Linked DNA regions of Homo sapiens: region 1 is linked to region 2. The links come from fine-mapping of genetic effects on gene expression. A gene starts in region 2. The other region holds a variant in brackets. All regions are shown on one strand. Distances are between the middles of the regions. Region 1 has its middle 21 kb from the start of ZNF467. Region 2 holds the start of KRABD3 (KRAB domain containing 3).

What was found.
Region 1: its variant is fine-mapped to the expression of KRABD3 in monocytes (Fairfax 2014, PIP 0.95).

Annotation. Positions count from the first base shown.
Region 1 is chr7:149,748,077-149,757,878 of GRCh38, reverse strand. No RefSeq gene overlaps it. Among named protein-coding and RNA genes, the nearest start is that of ZNF467, 21 kb to the left of the region's middle. The variant T/C (reference allele first, on the strand shown) is at 4,305.
Region 2 is chr7:149,709,860-149,719,661 of GRCh38, reverse strand. KRABD3 (KRAB domain containing 3) reads right to left here and starts at 4,711. Exons shown (of 17, transcript NM_001290187.2): 1 at 4,596-4,711; 2 at 1-116. The coding sequence starts at 4,607. RefSeq lists enhancers at 3,789-4,421, 5,059-5,558 and silencers at 4,624-5,063, 5,890-6,184.

The DNA.
Region 1 (9,802 bases), 38 kb before region 2:
TTTTTTGAGACAAGTCTTGCTCTGTTGCACAGGCTGGAGTGCAGTGGCACGATCTCGGCTCACTGAAACCTCTGCCTCCCGCACTCAAGGAATTGTTGTGCCTCAGCCTCCGGAGTAGCTGGGACTATAGGCACGTGCCACCATGTCCAGCTAATTTTTCTGTATTTTAGTAGAGACGGGGTTTCACCATGTTGGCCAGGCTGGTCTTGAACTCCTGGCCTCAAGCGGATCCGCCTGCCTCCCAAAGTGCTTGGATTACAGGCGTGAGCCACTGTGCCCGCCCCAGTCTGGTTATTCTGATGAGGTGAAGGAAACTCAGACAGTCTCCATGACCTGTGCACAGACATGAGGCCATACGTGACGCAAGAAAGCAACCTGGTGGTCTGACTCTAGAGCTTGTGCTTTTTAAAAAATTACATTATTTTAAATTGTGGCAAAATACACAGAACATAAAATGTAACATCTTTACCATTTTTAAGTTTGCAGTTTAGTGGCATAAAGAACATTCACGTTATGTGACCATCACCACCATCCATCTCCAGAACTCTTTTCAACTTGTGTCATGGTTAATTTTCTGTGTCAACTTGGCTAGACCATGGTGCCCAGATATGTGACCAAACATTATCTTTATATGTTTATATGAGGGTTTATGGATGATATTAACATTTAAATTGGTGGACTTGGAGTAAACAGATTATCCTCCATAATGTGGGTAGGCCTTACCCAATCAGTTGAACAGAACAGAAGACTGACCTCCCCCAAGGAAGAGGGAATTCAGCCAGCAGAAGCATCGGCTCTTCCCTAGGTCTCCAGCCAGCCAAAGCCACCCTATAGATTTTGGACTTGCCAGCCCCTGTAATCACATGAGCCCATTCCTTAAAACAAATCTCTTTCTACATGTATATACACACACCCCAAGGTTGTCTTTCTCTAGAGAATCCTGACTAATACACCTTGCAAAGCTGAAACTCTGTGCCTATTAAACCCTATTCTCCCCTCTCCAAATCCCTGGCAACCATCATTCTACTTTCTATCTCTATGAATCTGACTACTCTAGGGACCTCCTATAAGTGGAATAACATAGTGTTTGTCTTTTGTGACTGGCTTATTTCACTTAGCATGATGTTCTCAAGGTTCATCCATGCTGTAGCAGGTCTTAGAATTTCCTTCCTTCTTAAGGCTGAATATTCCATTGCATGTCTACACTACATTGTTTATCCAATCATCCACCAATGAACACTTGGTTGCCTCCACCTTATGGTATTGTGAATCATGCTGCTGTGAACAGGAGTGTACATATGTCTGTTTGAGTGCCTGTTTTCAGCTCTTTTGGGTATATACCCAGATATGGAATTGCTGGATCATATGGTCATTCTATTTTTAATTTCTTGAGGAGCTGACATACTGTCTTCCACAGCATCTGCACCATTTCACATTCTCACCAGCCATGCATGAGGCTTCCAATGACGCCACATCCTTGCCAACAATTGTTATTTTCTGGTTTTTGATACTGGCCATCCTCATGGCTTTGAGGCGACATCTCAGAGTGATTTTGGTTTGCATTTTCCTAGGACCTGTACTTTTAAACACCAAGCTCCACTGTCCCCTTGCAGAGAGGGGTCTTCAGGACACACATTCAAGGTCTTCAGGGCACTCACAGACTCGCGGTTGGACCTAGTGGGTTGGTAAGAGAAGTATGTGCAAAGGATCATGGAACAAGGAGCAAGGAGCAGGGACTCACACCTGGAGATCAGGAGGGCATCTCTGAGGAGGTGAATTAACTTGCCAAGACTGTAAGCAACTGGGGACCAGGCTTCCAGCCAGCCGGGAAACCTGTTACACACACACGTGGCATTAGCATGCATCTGTCTCCTGGGAGAGGACAGTGCTGGGTGGCAGAGACCTGGGAAGAAGCATGAAGCCATGGAAGTTGGGCCTGGCTATCTGTTGCAAAATGTTCCCTTTCTAGACGCGATCATGAATCATGGAGCTACAGCTATGGGAATCTTTGTTGAGGCGTGGATGTCAGCTGTGATTTAAAATAGGTAGGAATCGGCAGGCAGAATGAAGCTTCATTTTCATAGAAAACATATATTATGGCATCCTGAATCGAGGCACTGAGAAAGGGTGGCTGATGTCCAAGCAGGTGATGTACCAAGGAGACCAGGCAGTGCAGACAGGTACAGCTCTGAGAGAACACCAGGAAGGAAGGGGGAAAGGAAGGTAGCAAAGTCTCAGGATGTGTTTATGGGGCAGGCAGATAGCAACCTGGGAAGAGGGTCGAGGCCTCACAGACTCCCAAGACACTGGCCAGCCTGGGCCCAACTCCAAGCCACAGTCTCTGTGAATTGCCTGAAAATTGTCCTGCTGACATTGCTGCCCCCTGCACACAGGCAAGGGGGGAGCTGTGCCATGTGGCACTGCGTTCACCGAAGCTGCTGTGTTCGCTTCCTGAGGCCTCCTTTACAAAGTGCTACACACTGCATAGCTTCAAAACAGCAGAAATCTATTCCTTCACGGTCTGGAGGCTATGAGTGTGAAATCAGGTGTTACACTCCCTCTGAAGGCTCAAGGGAAGACTCTGTTCCAGGCCTTTCTCCTGGCCATTTCTTGACTTATAGACACAGCACTTCAATCTCTACCTCCATCCTCCCATCACCTTCTTCCTGGGTCTCCTCCACTCTGGGCATGTCTGTGTCCCTCCTCTTCCTATAAGGACAACAGTCATATTGGAGAACGGCCCACCCTAATGACCTCATCCTGATTTTATCCGCAAAGATCCTATTTTCAAGAGGCTATATTCATAGGTTGGGGCCAGGGCTAGGACTTCAACACAACTTTTTGGACTTCTTGGGGGGCGCAATTCAATTCATAACAGAGACCTTGAGTAAAATACTGTGTCAAAGTTGGGGGAGCTGAGGCTGAAATGAGGGCTCCTGGTATTGGGAGGGAATGGGGCAGTGCAGCTCTAATCAGAGCCCATGAGAGTGGACCTGTGGGTCCAGGCAGCTCTTACCCCAGGAGCTCTTGGATCCACCCTGTGCTATGTTTTGGAGATGTGTCATATCATTCAAAAAAGCCAAAAGAGGCTGGGCACTGTGGCTGACACCTGTAATCCCAGCACTTTGGGAGGCCGAGGTGGGAGAATCACTTGAGGCCAAGAGTTCAAGACCAGCCTGGGCAACATAGGGAGACTCCATTTCTAAAAAAAAAAAAAAATTTAATTACCCAGGCATGGTAGCAGGCCTGTAGTCCTAGTGACTCAAGAGGCTGAGGTAGGAGGATGCCTTGAGCCCAGGAGTTTGAGGTTACAGTAAACCAAGATTGTATCACTGCACTCCAGCCCGGGTGACAGAGCAAGAACTTGTCTGAAAAAAAAAAAAAAAAAGATAAAACATAAACAGTTTTGCTTTGTGTTACTTTATTCTTCGTGTGATTTTTAAATTTAAATTTTTCCTAGTCCTATAACAGTAAAATAGCTTTGATAGGACAGTAAACAGTTGACTTTTAGGAGACACTAAGAGCAACTGGGAACTCAGCCTTTTTCCATCAAACATGACTGTTTTGTTTGGTGTTTCTGTAAACTGTGTTTATGTGTCGGGGGTGGTGGTGTGCACACCAGGATTTACTTGTAGAGAGACATAGATGAAGGAAGGAGACAGCCTCCCGAGGAAGATGTTGCCTATGCTGGGGAGAGGGCTTGAAGGGGAGCCGGGGTGGGGGTTGGCGAGGTGGGTTGAGGGTGGGAGGGCTTCTGCTAGTATGTTCAGGGAGACAGATGGGCCGACTGAAGGCAGACAGGTTGGTGAGTGCGTTCACGGGACATGCTGGTTTCCAGTAGTGAAAGATTCTTTCTGCTCCTGGGACTCAAGAACCTGCTCGTAGTTGTTAACTCCAGGGTCCTGGGGAGGCCACCCATGCCCCACAGGGAAGAAAACTTCTTCACTCACTTACTGATCCTTGAAATGTCTTTTAACCAGAGACAAGTCTTGTATTTCACAGTCAGAGGGAGTATGCAAGACCCCCAGAAGAGGGCGCACGGCCACAATTCCACGCTGGTGGAAGGACTGGAATCCTGTCCTTCCCTGGGAACCCTCACCTGGGGAAGGATGAGTGAGTGTCACACTGAGGCCTCCCACAGTGGAGAAGCAGCAACGGAGAAGGAGGCCCCAGGAACCCTAAAGACAGAGACTTTAAGGTCGGGAGGGTTTCACAGAGGCTTTAGGAAACAGATTTATCCAACTGCCACAAAGGACTGAGCCTTCAGGCGTGGGATTAGGTCAGCCTTGGGGCAGGGGACATTC[T/C]TGGTCAATAGCAGGACTTTGATTTACGTAACGGGCTTATGCAATGTCATTACATAACATCATTAGGGGCATCGCAAATCGGATTCTATTTCAGGCTCTACAGGAGCCAGACCCAGGGCTCCCCTCCGGCCCAGCAAGACAGGATTCCCGTGGGCCCAGTGTCCCTGTCCTCGCTGGGATTTTCTCTCTTGAGATTTCACTGTGGGGCTTCCAGGAGAACTCCTAAGGCCTCAGGATCCTCTTTCTCCAGAATGATGGAGCTCGCGTCATAGCACGCTCATCCTTTGCAGATGCCTGCCCTGCTGCCCCTGCTGCCCCTGACCCTCCCAGTACTGTCCCCCCAAGCCCAGGCCAGTGGGCAACCTTCTCCTATCAGGTCCCCCTCTGACTTCTCCCCAACTCCTGCTTCCCCATCTATCCTCCAACTGTCAGGCTGATCTTCCTTATAACTTATTACGCCCCAGCTTAGAAACTTCTGCTCATCTGAATATCCAGAGGCCTTAGCGGTTGACACATTGTGCCACATTATTCTGTGTGTCCCTCTGGGGGTGGCAAGCTTCCCTGGCACAGAGCAGAGTGCCCACCTAGCCAGTGTGCAATACATGTCTGTTCTAACTCAAGGCTCTCTACAGTTGGCCCCAACAAACTTTTGAAACTTATTTTCCAAACCTCCTGGGTACACACCCTCCCTTACACCAAGCGGTCTTGTTCCTGTCTCCGGGCCGTGTGGTCCTTCCTGCCTCCTGCCCCGGCCTCCCTGGGCTTCCCCATCACAAAGTGCCTACTGCCCTGACTTCCCTTTTAAATCCTACCTATTTTTCGAGCACAGATGGGGGCCACCTCCTGGGGGTGTCCTTCCCCAATGATCCCAGCACACAACAATCTCCTCCTTTAAGCTGTCATGGTTCCTCTGCTTCCCACCTTACCAGATGTCGCCTGCAGTTGTTGGGTGTGTCCGCGTGTGCCTAAAATGTGTGAGTGCCTCCTGTGACTGAGGCTCCTACTTAATTCCCCTAAGCCCCCTTTGGTACGGGGTTGCTGTCCTCACTTCTCAGGTAAGGAAACCGGGGTTTAGAAAGGTTACACCCTTGTAGGAGCCTCATCTCTCCAGGCCCACTGGGAACATCTCGAGGGCGGAAGTCGTGTTTTTTTGTCTTGGTATTTCCAGGACCTGGCACATTTGAACACTCACAACACGTATGTTGAATTGTACAGGTGGAAGAGGAGCCTTTACAAGGCCTACCCATCTCAAAATCCCTCCCCTACCGGATAATCTGAGTGCCTAAAATCCACCCCTGCAGAGTTATAGCTGTGAACTAAGACAGGGTGACAGCAAACACAAATCCCAAAGTTAATAAATTCAGCGATCTATTTTTTCATGTGGCTGCTGAGATGGTTAAAGCTAAACTTACTGCTCAAATGCAATTATGTGAGTTAGATATCTGGTATGTTTCACATACTCTGCATGTCCCATTTAAAGCCTCACTGTAATATACCACCTTCGTTGGCCGTTACTGCAAAGTATATGTATTAGATGAGAAGAGAGCTACCTGAACTAAGAAGAGAGCTGAGAACCACACTCAGGAAAGCAGACAGAAAGGGGAAAGCAGGAATGTCAGTGTTGGAGAGGCCTGAGAATTTTCTAGGCTGTCGGTTCCTAACCTTTAGCAAACCACCAAGCATTTAGTTGTTTAAAGCTCCCTTCAGAGTAATGTGCATAGAAACAATGATTTGCACGTAATTTTAGAGGGTATGTGGACACCCTCTTTAAGCCCCTCTGTGGGCCCACATGGTCCGCAGAGCTGGTTTAAGAACCTCTGCTCTCATCCTGCATGACAGAACGGAGGCCTGGAGGAGAGAGGTTCTGCTGGGGCCTGAAGGGTGGGAGGGAGGGAAAGAGGAAATCCATGATTTTGCAGGGCAGGCCCTGCTGGCTAGTTTCCGGTTCTCCTTGTCATCTTGTGCCTGGGCTGCCCCTGGCACAGGAAGAGCCTGTGTGGCCAGAGGAACCTGCTTCCCCTCCACCCAGCTCTGCATGCCCCTCCCTGCTCAGCGGGCTGGGGAGGGTGGAGGTCCCAGGGTCCCACAACTAAGGTGGGCTCACATTCTGGGACCAGATCAGGACTCACAATTACCCCACAGGAGACTTCCACCCATCCCTCTCCCCAACCCAGATGGAAGCACACTTGCCTAGCTGGGCTGGAGGCAGATGACACACCTAGGGGGCCTGCCGGGGGCCTGGGTTGGGAACAGAAGCCCCAGCTCTGCACTCTGAGAGCTGTCCCTGAGTTATCCCCCACCCCTACCCCTGTGCAAAGGATGCTAATGAGAAGCTTTTCATTTCGCAGCTGCAGCAGCACAGCGTGCACACACTTGTCTCATTTTGCTGTTTCAGGAAAGAAAGCAGAGCTTGCTCACCCCTCGCCCCCACTTCTATTCCCAGTGAAGGTCACGGCTTCTCCTCAGCCCTGATTGGCAGCAGCCTTCTGAGGGCCAATGCTGGTGACCAGCAGTCAGGCTTCAGAGAGGGGCCTTCTGAGCTTTCCACAGCTCTGTGAGGAGATGTCCGAAGGGAAACATTGCAGAGTGGGACAAGGGGAGAGTCCAGAGATAAGAATTATCTATGTTGTTTTGTTTTTTTTTTTTTTGAGACAGAGTCTCACTCTGTCGCCCAAGCTGGAGCACAGTGGCACGATCTTGGCTCACTGCAGCCTCTGCCTCTTGGATTCAAGTGATTCTCCTGCCTCAGCCTCCTGGGTAGCTGGGATTACAGGCACCTGCCACCACGCTTGGCTAATTTTTTTTTTCTGTATTTTTAGTAGAGACAGGATTTTACCATGTTGGTCAGGCTGGTCTCAACCTCTTGACCTCAAGTGATCTGTCTGCCTTGGCCTCCCAAAGTGCTCAGATTACAGGCCTGAGCCACTGTGCCCAGCTGAGAATTATCTATTTTAAACCAAGTAGGTATTTAGGCACTTGAGAATACCCAGGGGAAAAATCTCACATCGCTGCCCGGATCTGCCTTTTGCAAATATTGCTTGTAAATTAAATGAGCTGGACTTGGGAAGTGGCAAGAAACAACTTTATTTTCTTCTTTCATCGTCGCATTCAAACCCATTCTGTTGTATCTGCCTTCTTCGCTATATCACTTTTTTATTGTGTGTAACAAATCACTCCGAAATTGAGCCACTTAAAACAACCTTTTATTTGCTTACAGTTCTGTGGGTTAGCAGTTTGGACTGGGTTCAGCAGAGTGGTTTTTGGCTGGTCTCACCTGGGTTCCTCCTTGCAGGTACAGTTACCTTGTGGCTCTTGTGGCCCAACTGGATCTGGGTGGTCCAAAATGGTCCTATTCTCATATCCAGTGGTTGGTGCTAGCTATTGGCTAGGCCTCTCTCTCCTCCTCCAGGAGGCTGACCCGGGCCTCCGACATGCCAGCTCTGTATTCCAAGGGGGCTGGTGCAGAATCTGTAAGGGCTTCCTGAAGCCATGGCTGCAGCACTCACACAGTGTCACTTCAGCCATATTCTCTTGATCAAATCAAGTTACAAAGCCCCCCAAGGTTTAAGAGGTGGGAAAACCGTCTTTGGTGGGAACAGCAGCCAAGACCCATGGCACGGTAGTGAGTGTACAGGGGCAGGAGAAGTTCTGGTCACACCCACTCCTGGACCATATGTTTGGTGGATCCTAATATATCTTGGAAGTTAGAATAGTCTCATTTTCAGTTACTAAAAAGTCTAGCACCATCTAACCCACAACTTCTATATCTCATCCACTCTGAAGCATCTCTCCAATCTCACTGGGGACTGCTGTGATGGGAAAAGGGGCCCAGGTCTCAGTGATCTCCATCTTGTTCTTTCACTGCTCTTCCTCACACCCTGGGCCCCAGTTGGCTCCCCCAGGGGGATGACAGGAAGGAGGGGAAGGAGAATGCCTCCCATCTGACCAGTGTTGTTGTCACCCAACCCAGGTGTCCTCTGTGTGGCAGGATGCTGCTGGAATAGTGACTTTGTCTCTCATGAGGTCCTTTGCTGAGTTCTTCTAGGTCACTTGCTCCCTGTATGGGGCTCCTCATTAGGGACTCCCTAATGAGGGCAATGCACCCTCTAAATGACCACGCTTCAGCTTCTGCTCTGCTGTGTACCCCACACAACTGCTTTCTTCCAGGGTTACTCACCAGATGCGCTATTTTCTCCCCTGCTTCTCTGTGCATTCCTTCCTTCCTTCTCTGTGGACCAGCTTTCCTGCTTCTTCACTCATAGAGCACAGCAAAGGTGGCCTCTCCATAGCTTCCACATTGACCAGTTACTGGTGTAGTCATTCAAACAATTGACTAACTTTCTCAATTCCAGACTCCTGGAAGAAAGAATCTAGCTAAGCTAAGGTCAAGTTGATCCCAGGGTTGTTCAGCTATGATCGTTGTCCTATGGATGTCATGTCCTACCCGTTTATGGAAGAAATGGGAGTTCCCAGGGAAATGCTGGCCCCCAGGCTGGACAGTCAGGCCCAAGTATCTACTGCAGTGGGCACAATAGCTAGAGCCAGTCCTATGTCAGCAACTGTTATATTGACAGTTCAAGAGGACCATCAGATTTATTAACTATAAACTCATGGGCGGTCACTTAGAAAGCTGCTTCAGTAGAATGATGGTGGCAAAAGTTCGACTGCAAATGTCTGAAGGGTGAATTGGAGTGAGGAAATGGAGACAAGATGTGTAGACCATTTGGAACAGATATCTAATTGTATGTAGTCAGTGCTGCTGTTTTTCTAAAAAACAGTGAGATGGAGCTGCTTGGTGAGATGGAGCTGCTGTATTTCTGCATGGTCCTGGCCCTGGCACCAGGTGATTGGTCCAGGAGAGGGAACCCAGCCCAAGCTGGGCCAGTTGGCCTTCCCCAGGATTTTGAACTTTGGACCAGTGACCGTGTGAGTCAGACCCTCCTGGGTAACAAAAGCTGTAGGAAGTAACACATGGAAGCTTCCATAGGCCATATTTCTTATCATGTGAATGAGATTGGTTTTCAGTGAGGGAGAATGGAGCTGACCGCAGAGTAAAGTAGGAATGAGGTGCGAAGAAGGTCTTTGTATCAGATGAGCCTCAGATTCTTGGCATTCCTTAGGCCAAACCGTATCCCTTGTTTCTGTGGCAACCATGGAGATGCACCCTTGGATTTCCCTTCCAAACCCAATGCTGCTCCTCTGTGAAGAGGATGGTGAGCTGACAGCTGGCTGCTGTCAGTGTACCCAGGGTCCACCCCAGCTTGTGAGCCAAGGCCATGCTCCTCCCAGGAAGTCCCCAGCCAGTGACCATGCCGGGCTATTTCTACCCAAAGTGGAAGTCGTCTAATAAGCCGGTGAATAAGCTCTCTGGGCCAGAGCTCTCTGTCAGGGTGTCTGAGACTTTGTGCATCAGGGTCTGAGGCTCCAGCTGCACAATCCTGTTCCCCCCGCCCCCAGCTCTCTTTGCAGAGGGGTCGGATGCTCATCATGCCTGAGAC
Region 2 (9,802 bases):
AGCGTCTCGTAGTTCTCCCGCATCACGTCTCGGTAGAACTCCCTCTGCCCCTCCTCCAGGAGCCGCCACTCCTCCTCCGAGAACCGCACGGCCAAGTCCTTGAAGGTGATGGACACCTGCAGGCACAGTCTCCGGGGGGGTTGGTTGTTCCATCCCAGAGGGGACAGCCTAGCTGTCCCTGCACTTGGTAACCCCACCTAGGCCTCCAGGCGCACACTCCAGGATAATAGCCAGGGTCTGACATGCAGGAATCCCCTCAAGAGACAGTGCTGGGGGTGAGCTGTGTCTCTGCAGAGACACGCTGAAGTCCTAACCCTCACGCCTGTAAGTAGGACCTTATTTAGAAACAGAGTCCCTGCAGATGGAATTACTTAAGATGAGGTCATACTCCTAAGTAGGGGGGACCCTTAGTCCAGTATGACTCATTCCTTATCAGAAGAGACACAGAGACAGACACAAAAGAAGAAAGCTGTGTGAAGACAGGCAGAGACTACAGTCATGCAGCCACAAGCCAAGGAATGCCCAGGGCCACCAGAAGCCACAAGAGGCAAGAAGGATCCTGGCCCAGAGCCTTCAGAGGGAGTGTGGCCTGCCCACACTGTGACGTAGGGCTTCGGGTCTGCAGGGCTGTGAGAGAAGACATTCTTGCTGTCCACCTAGTTTGTGTGCTGGGTTTAGAGAAGTGCTCAGAAGAAACCTGGGGTTGCCCTTGGAAGCTTTGGGTCACCAGGCTCCTTTACACCCTGTACTCCTATCTCCTATTCTCTGTACTCATCTCCTCCTACCCTGTGGCTTTTTAAAATAACACGAGCATTTTTGTCTATGTTTCTTTACAAAATAATCCTTCGGCTGGGTGTGGTGGCTCACGCCTGTAATCCCAGCACTTCGGGGGGCCAAGGCAGACAGATCACCTGAGATCAGGAGTTCGAGACCAGGCTGGCCAATATGGTGAAACCTTGTCTCTACTAAAAATGCAAAAATTAGGTGTGGTGGTGGGCGCCTGTAATCTCAGCTACTCAGGAGGCTGAGGCAGGAGAATTGCTTGACCTCGGAAGGCAGAGGTTGCAGTGAGCCGAGATCACGCCATTGCACTCCAGTCTGGGCAATATGGCGAGACTCCATCTCAAAAAAAAAAAAAAAAAAAAAAAGTCCTTCAGTGGACTTTAAAGTGGCCATCAGACACTAGAAAATGACCAGCATCAATAGGCTTGAATTTAAAATTATGGCAAAAATTAACTGTGCAAATTAAGCAAACAGAAGGTAAATTATGGGAAGGGTCCTTCCTGTTGAGAAATGAATGTTAAACTGTTTATTTGTGAGAACAAATTATTAAAGAAAATGAACACGCCCCTAATAAAGCAAAGACAATTCACCGCTTGTTTCATCTGCTCAGGGCAGTTATTTTAATTAATTAATTAAAAAAGACAGGACCTTACTATGTTGCCCAGGCCAGTCTTGAACTCCTGGGCTCAAGTGGTTCTCCCACATTGGTCTCCCAAAGTGCTAGGATTACAGGCGTGAGCCCCTGCACCCACCCAAGTCAGTGATTCTAAAAACTGTCCCAGGCTGGGTGTGATGGTTCACGCCTGTAATCCCAGCACTTTGGGAGGCCCAGGTGGGTGGATCACCTGAGGTCAGGAGTTCAAGACCAGCCTGGCCAACATGGTGAAACCCCATCTCTAATAAAATACAAAAATTAGCCAGGCATGGTGGTGGGTGTCTGTAATCACAGCTACTTGGGAGGCTGAGGCAGGAGAACCTGGAAGGCAGAATTTGCAGTGTGCCAAGGTCACAACATTGTACTCCAGCCCCTGTTTCAAGAAAAACAAAAAACTGTCCCTGCCACTAACCGGCAGCCTTGTTGTCCACTTACTGCCGGGCTCTCTGCCTGTTCTCCCTGAACAGCTGATAACTTGTCCCATGCAGTCACACTTACCAGTGCTCCCCTCTGGCCAGGCTGCATCTACACCCCTGGCAAGGGGCAGCCCCTCCCGTGACTGCCTGCCTGAGGCCCGGAGGCCCAGAGGCTGATGGGCAGTGAGATGCTGCAGCCTTTGCCTCCTGCCTCGATGTGCAGACTCTCCCTGAGCAAACCTCTGTGGCTCTGGCCCAGGTATGGTCACTCCCTCTCAGGAACAGTCTCAGACACCCTCCAAAACTTCTCTCAAAGAGTTATTTACATTTCTTCCTAGCATCTTGGAACAGAGAAAATGTAGCCAACATCAGGGTCTATGCAGAAGAGCGTGCAGAGCAGCCCTAGACCGCTGTCCTTAGGAAGGCCTGCTTGCCAGGAGGGCTCAGGCTGGCTTCCAGGTATTTAGGTGTCAGGAGGCTTCCCACCATTCCCTAAATGATGGGAGTGGCTCAAGGTGCCTAGGCTGAGCAAATGACGTGGTGTGTGCCACACCCCTGCTTTCCTTCTGGGAGTCTGGAATTTTGGTTCATGGCAGGCAGAGGGTTCCCACATGACATTCTGATGGCTCAACACAGAGCTGGCAAGGCAGGTCTGAGCTCTAGGTAAGAACATGATACCAGCTATGTTGGTTGCACTGGTACCACTGCTGACCTGATGTGGCCATTAAGAGGTTCCGGACCCAGAGACCGGGGCAGAGCACGGTGACTGGGGCCTAGCCTCAGGAGCCAGGCTGCCAGAATTCCAATCCCTGCCTTGTTTCATACTAGTTATGAGACCTCAGCCAAACCTAACCTATTTGGGCCTCAGTGAACTCATCTGTAATACTGGGATCATAACAACCTACCTCATAGAGGTATTGTGAAGACAAAACAAATACAGGAATAGTGCCTAGAACAAATGCGGGGACTATGAATATTAAGTGCTATGATTAGTAATACTGCAGCCAGACCTGTCTGCCTAATGCCCGCTTGCAGGTCTGAGCCTGCCAGCTGAGCTCTTCCACATACTGCTCCTGACCACCGGTGTCTCTCTCGCTCCAGACTAAATATATCCCAGCTCTTCCAGGAATCTGTAAGAGATGCTTTCCAGGCCTCTCACCATCTCAGCCTCAAGACAAACTGTTTTGTGATAAAATTCTTAGAAAATGAGAATGGGAACTGACTGTGGCCAGGGTAGGCGCTTCTGCCAGTGGCCTCCCTCTCCCCAGAAAAAGCAAAGAGTGAGGGTTTTGTGTGTGAGGGAGTGAGCAAGTGTGAGTGTGCAAACACCTGGGCTACAAAACTCATCTTCGGGAGGAGGAAGGCCACCACTGGCTGGCTCTGCCCACACACCACCGGCCTTCCTCCTCGGGCCCCACTTCACCTCCTTCCCCCAACCAATGGAGAAAAGCTTTCTGGGCTGACCCAGGACTCTTGTAACTGGGCAGCCTCCTAGCTCATAGCTGCACACTGGTCCTCCTAACATCACCCTTCCACCGTGTCACTAGCCCAGCACAAAAACTGCAGCTTCAGTGCCTGCTGGACCTGCCCCTCTCTCACAGTCCTTCCCAACCTAGACCTGCTCTCCCAGTGGGCCTCAGGCTCGGGCTCCCTGATCAGACCCTGCCACAGGACCTCTCAACCTGGAGGCTGTGCTCACATTGCCCTGGGCTTCTGGGAACCCTCCCTGCTCCTCTCCACCTTACAGTGACCTACCACTCCCCAAGGTCACTCCTGGCCACCTTCTCCATGAAGCTACGTAGTGTGAGGATATTCCCCTCATCAGATCTGAAAGGTCAATGGCCCAAACTCCTCACTTTACAGAACAGGAAACTGTGGTATGAGGAGGCCTTAGGATGGGGCCATGGGCATGTCTGAACCAGGGTGTCCCTAGGCTACTTAACTGTGCAGCCAGACCTGAAAAGGACACTTGACTGTCCCTGCCCAACAACATCCAATTTGCCTAGCCTCTCCCTTCTCCCCAAATGCTTGGGGGCACTAATGACGCCAAGGGCCTGGCACAGTGTTTGCTCTGCCTAGTCACACGCTGCCCCCCATCCATGGCTGCCTCGGACTGGCCAAAGCTCAGGAGCCACCACGGTTGCAGAACTGGCTCCAGGTGCCCATCCAGAAGAACGTGGAGCAGTTGCTGGTATCAGCACCAGATACCTGATACCTCACTGATATCAGCACCAGAGTTTCCCAGCATCGTCACAGCCCACACACAACCTAGCCCAAACGGTGCCCAGGCTGTCACGGCCTGGGGCTCTCCCTCCAGTTCTCAGATCTAAACGCCTTACCTGCAGGCTTCCCAAGACAAAACTTGGGGTTTGTTCTATCTTTGTTTCTCCCCATTTCCACGTCCCCAGCCCCCGGGATCCAGGATTCCACCAAGAACAGAAGTATGAGATTTACTCACTGCCTCCGAGGCCTTCATGCCCACTCTACCAGGATAACTTGTAACGAAACAAGCCACGCCAAGGGGGTTTCCCCAGGTGGAGACTGGGCCGTGGGTACCGGCGGCGGAGAGCTGGAGAGAGGTTGTCCGAGGACCTGAACTTCCCGGCACGAACCCCTGAGCATCAGGCCTGCCCAGCCTCACCCAGCCGATCCCGAAGTTGCGGGGGGGTCCCAGCTCTTTCTCGCCCTACCGCCTTCGGGGCCGCACTGCGCCGAGGGGTCCGCGCGTCCGCCTGCCTTACCTGGCGCGCCATCCCCGGGCTCAGCCTCCCCGCCACTCCTCGGTTTCCGGCGCGGGCCCTGGCGCGGGCGCACGCGACCCTCGTCGGCGGCGGCCCAGGTCCGCGCAGGAGAAGGCGGGGCCGGGGGCCTGGGCCGAGGGGGAGGGGCGGGGGTGGGCGCGCCCGGGCCCGCCCCCGGCCTCGTTGAGCCCGCCCCGAGCGCCTCGCATCCCTTGGTGGGTGGTGCCGTTTCCGCCCGGAGCCCCCGGCTTCGGCGGCCCGGCCGGCCGGCGCAGACGCGGACTACACTTCCCAGAAGGCGCCGCGGCGCCGGCTCGGAAGCGGGGGGCGGAGACAGGGCGGGGCGGACCTGGCTCGGGCCTCGTCCCCGCCCCCTCCCCTCGTCCCCGCCCCCAGCTGCGGGTAGAGGTTGCGCGCCGAGACCAGCCGGGGCGGCTGTGGGCGTGCAAGCCCGCGGGTACGCGCCGCTTATCACTCATTCATTCCCGCAGCCACCACTCAGCGCGTCCCATGTGCCAGGGGCTGATGGTGGGGATGAAGAGGGACCCATCTTTCCCAGAGGCCGCGGTCGGGGAAACCCGACCTGGAGTGAAAGGGGTCGAGGGTCCGGCCGGGCGTGGGTGGGACAGAGCAGCTGCCAGGCCCCCGTACATCCTCACGTCTTTCGCCCGCGCCCCCGCTCGCCGCAGCCATGACCTACCTTCGTGTCACATTTTGCGTGCCTGTTTGCTGGGGTGGTAACCCCAGTTGTTCCTGGCACATAGTAGGCCTCAAATAAACGTGTGATGCGGGAAGGAAGCGCGGCCCACTCTCCTCTGCCTCCCCCTGCGCTTCACGAGTTCGAAGGCCTGGTCTGGGCGGGCGCTGCGAGAGCGCTCCGGGGGTGCGGGCGAGGCGCAGCGAGCCTGGTTTTCCTGTCTGGAGAAGGACCCCGTCATTTTTATAGAAGGCTGCTGGAAGGGGGCCTGCGGGGCTAAGCCTGCTGTGCCAGACAGAAGCTTGGAGGGGAAGGGGAGGCTGTGGTCCCACGCAGAGGAGACTCTGCTCTGAGTTTGGAAGCCCCGTCCAGACCTTGCGGCCCAGACAGCGCTCTGCCTGGGCAATATCGGAGGGAAGGAAAGGGAATTCCTCGCCCAGTCGCCCGGGGCTGGCCCTTGCAGCCGCGCCGGCCATGATCACGGACTCGGGTACGATGCCGACAACCCCTCGTCCCGGCCTCCGAGGAAAGGCGCACGCCCACTCGGGCAAAGCCCCCTCGGTCATACCCGAGACACCTTAGACACAGGACCGGCGTGTGCGCAGCCTGCTGAACAAGGATTTGAAGATATCACAAGGCCCCACCTCGCGGAAAGGGAAAACTTAAAAGTCCAACTTTTCAAGAGCCCTACAGGCCACAGCCCTCAGGGTAAGTCGCCTCCTGGGCTTTAGGCCGGGTCCCACCTCCGTGCCGAGGTGAGGCGGGCTCCTTACAGTAATGTGTTCCTGCTCCCAGCTCCTCTCCACCGCCCACCCTCCGGCCCGGGATCCCTAAACGTTAAAACCCCCTAAATCAGGGGTCCCCAACCTTTTGGGCCAGAGCCCGGTTTTGTGGAAGGGAATTTTTGCATGGACTGGGAGGGGGGTTGTTTTGGGATGAAACTGTTCCAACTCAGATCACCAGGCATTAGATTCTCCTAAGGAGCCCGCAACCTGGATCCCGCATTCACAACAGGGTTCTGGCTCCTATGAGAATCCAGCACCTGCAGATCTGACAGGAGGCAGAGCTCAGGGGTAATGCGAGCAAGGGGGAGTGGCTGTAACTACAGATAAAGCTTTCCCTGGCTTGCCCGCAGCTCACCTCCTGCTGCACTGCCCAGCTCCTAACAGGCCAGGACTGGTACTGGTCCATAGCCCAGGGACTGGGGACCCCTGCCTTAAACTTAAACACCTGTAGAAAGAAATCTCTATCCAAGTAAGATGCACCTTTGTTTTAAGCTGTGCAGATTCTTGGCACCTCTTTGACTCAAACGTCCACTTCCTGGCTAGGCTTCCTGCCCCATTTGTGGACCATCAGTCGCTAAAAGCAGTTCACCAACATGAAATTTGCTGCATGGCCAATTATTTAAATTATGGAGACACTTCCTGGCACCCCTATCCCCCAAATTTTAGTTGCGCCTTTGACCCTGTAGACCTGTATTTACCTCAGCCCGTGTGTGTGCGTTAAAAAATAGTTGTGAAGACCTGTCCTGAACCAGGTTTATTGGATGGCTCTGGACACAGACAAAGGCAGGAGTGGAGCTGAAACACATCTTTAAAAATTCCTTGGCTGGGGCCAGGCACGGTGGCTCACACCTGTAATCCCAGCACTTTGGGAGGCCAAGGCTGGTGAATTGCTTGGGCCTGGGAGTTCCAAACCAGCCTAGGCAACATGATGAAACCCCATCTCTACAAAAAATGCAAAAATTAGCCAGGTGCAGTGGTGTACCCCTGTAGTCCCAGCTGCTTGGAAGGCTGAGGTGGGAGAATCTCTTGAGCCCAGGAGGCAGAGGGGGGTTGCAGTGAGCCAAGATCACACCACAGCACTCCAGCCTGGGTGACAGAGCAAGACCCTGTCTCAAAAAAAAAAAAAAAAAATTTCAATAATTCAGATTGGTTGTTTAGCAAGTTGATATTCAGTGGTTTAGCTTTTACCATATTTGGCTTTTGGCTATCTGGTCATTCTGTGAATTGACTTTTGGTGAACTAGTCGGCACTTTTCCCAAATGAATCTAAAGGCAAATTGTGCTGGCCAGTCCTCCATGTGAAAATGGCTGCAACTTTAAAATATTTTCTGATTTTCATTATTATTTCTTTTTCCATCCATGAGATTATTTAAAAGTACTTTTTAATTTCCAAATACGAATCTTTTTATGAGTTATTTTGTTTTTGAGTTTTGCCTTATAGTCAGAGAATGTAGTAAGTGATGTTGATTTTTTAGAATTTTCTGAGACTGCTTTGTGGCCAAGTGTGCAATAGATGTTTGAAAATGTTCCATGTTTGCCTAAAAGAGTACATATATTCTAATATTGGTGTAGGATCTAGTTAGAGCTGTAAAATCAAGCTTATCAATCATGTGGTTTATGCCTTCTATAGTTTATCATCTTTTTGCATTTGGAACTATCAGTTACTAAAGAGGTGTTAAAATCTCATATCAAGTTTGTGCATTTGTCAATTTCTCCCTGAATTTGTGAGAATTTTCGCTTCATGTGTTTGGAGGCTGTGTGCTTACAAATTTAGAATTGTAGTATTTTCCTGGAGAATTGTTCATTCTATTATTAGAAAGTAACACTATCCCTAATAATAGTCTTTGTCTATAATCCATTTTGTTTGATATTGCTGCAGCTACACTAACTTTATTTTGGCAAGTATTTCTTTGATATATCTTTTCCTGTCCTTTTACTTTCAAACTTTGTGTATATTTATGTTTCAGATGTGTGTCATATAAGAGCATGTAGCTAGATTTTGTTGTTGCTGCTGAATCCAGTCTGACAATCTCTATCATAATCATGAATCTACTGATTTGAAAGTTATGCTTTCCTTTTTTATTCATTTGGGGGTTACTCTGTAATTTTACACACATATTTGGTTTAATAGAATCTAATATTACTACTTCTGATCTTCTCGCAAATGATAGAAAGCTTTTTGAATATGAGTTTAATCACACTCTTCCCCTTCTGTCTTGTGTGTAATTATTGTTCTTTTTAGTTACATCTTGTTTTTAAGACTCTCTCCTGATATTTGAAGTCATTGTTTTTGTTTTATACAATCTATGCTGTTTAGATTTACCAATGTGCTTACCACTATCTTTGTTCACTCTTTTTTCTTGCCTCTTTCTTCTTCCTTCTGGGTTCAATGTTCTTCCTGAAGCAGAACTTTTAAAATTTATTTCAGCAAGGATATTTTAGAAGTGGATACTTTCAGTTATATAAAATGTCTTACATTTTTCTCACTCCTGAATGATACTTTAGCCAGGGAGAGAACTGTTTCACACTTCTAATATTTTATTCCATTGTCTCCTGACTTTCATTGTTGCTATTGAAAAGTCTGCTGTCAGTCTAATTATTCCTTTGCATATGATTTAACTTCTCTGGCTTCATTTAAAATCATCTGTTTGGCCGGGCATGGTGGCTCACACCTGTAATCCCAGCATTTTGGGAGGCTGAAGCGGGAGGATCACCTGAGGTCAGGAGTTTGAGACCAGCCTGACCAACCTGGAGAAACCCCGACTCTACTAAAAATACAAAAAAAATTAGCCAGGCATGGTGGTGCATGCTTGTAATACCAGCTACTCGGAGGCTAAGGCAGGAGAATCACTTGAATCCAGGAGGCAGAGGTTGCAGTGAGCAGAGATCGTACCATTGCACTCTAGCCTGGGCAACAAGAGCAAAACTCCATCTAAAAAAAAAAAAAAATCTCTTTATCTGTGGTATCATGAAGTTTCACTGCAATGTGGCTAGGTATGGATCTTTTATTTATCTTTCTTGGAACTCGTGAGTCCTAAATCTGAGGTGTCACATCTTTGTACAAGTCTGGAAAATTCTCAGCTATTATATCTTTTAATATTGCCTCTTCCCAAGCTGGGCATGGTGGCTCATACCTGGAATCCCAGCACTTTGGGAGGCCGAGGCAAGTGGATCACGAGGTGAGGAGTTCGAGACCAGCCTGGCCAACATGGTGAAACCCCGTCTCTACTAAAAATACAAAATTTTAAAAATTAGCTGGGTGTGGTGGTGGGTGCCTGTAGTCCCAGCTACTCAGGAGGCTGAGGCAGGAGAATGGCATGAACCCAGGAGGCGGAGCTTGCAGTGAGCTGAGATCGTGTCACTGCACGACAGCCTGGGCAACAGAGACTCCGTCTAAAAAAAAAAAAAATTTAGGCCAGGTGTGGTGTCTCCCGCCTGTAATCCCAGCACTTTGGGAGGCCACAGTGGGCAGATCATCTGAGGTCAGGAGTTTGAGACCAGCCTGGCTAATATGGTGAAACCCTGCTTCTACTGAAATACAAAAAATTAGCCAGGCATGGTGACACACACCTGTAATCCCAGCTTCTCAGGAGGCTGAGGCAGGAGAGTTGCTTGAACCCAGGAAGCAGAGGTTGCAGTGAGCTGAGATCACGCCACTGCACTCCAGCCTGGGCAACAGAGCGAGACTCTGTCTCAAAAAATAAATAAATAATAATAAAATAAATA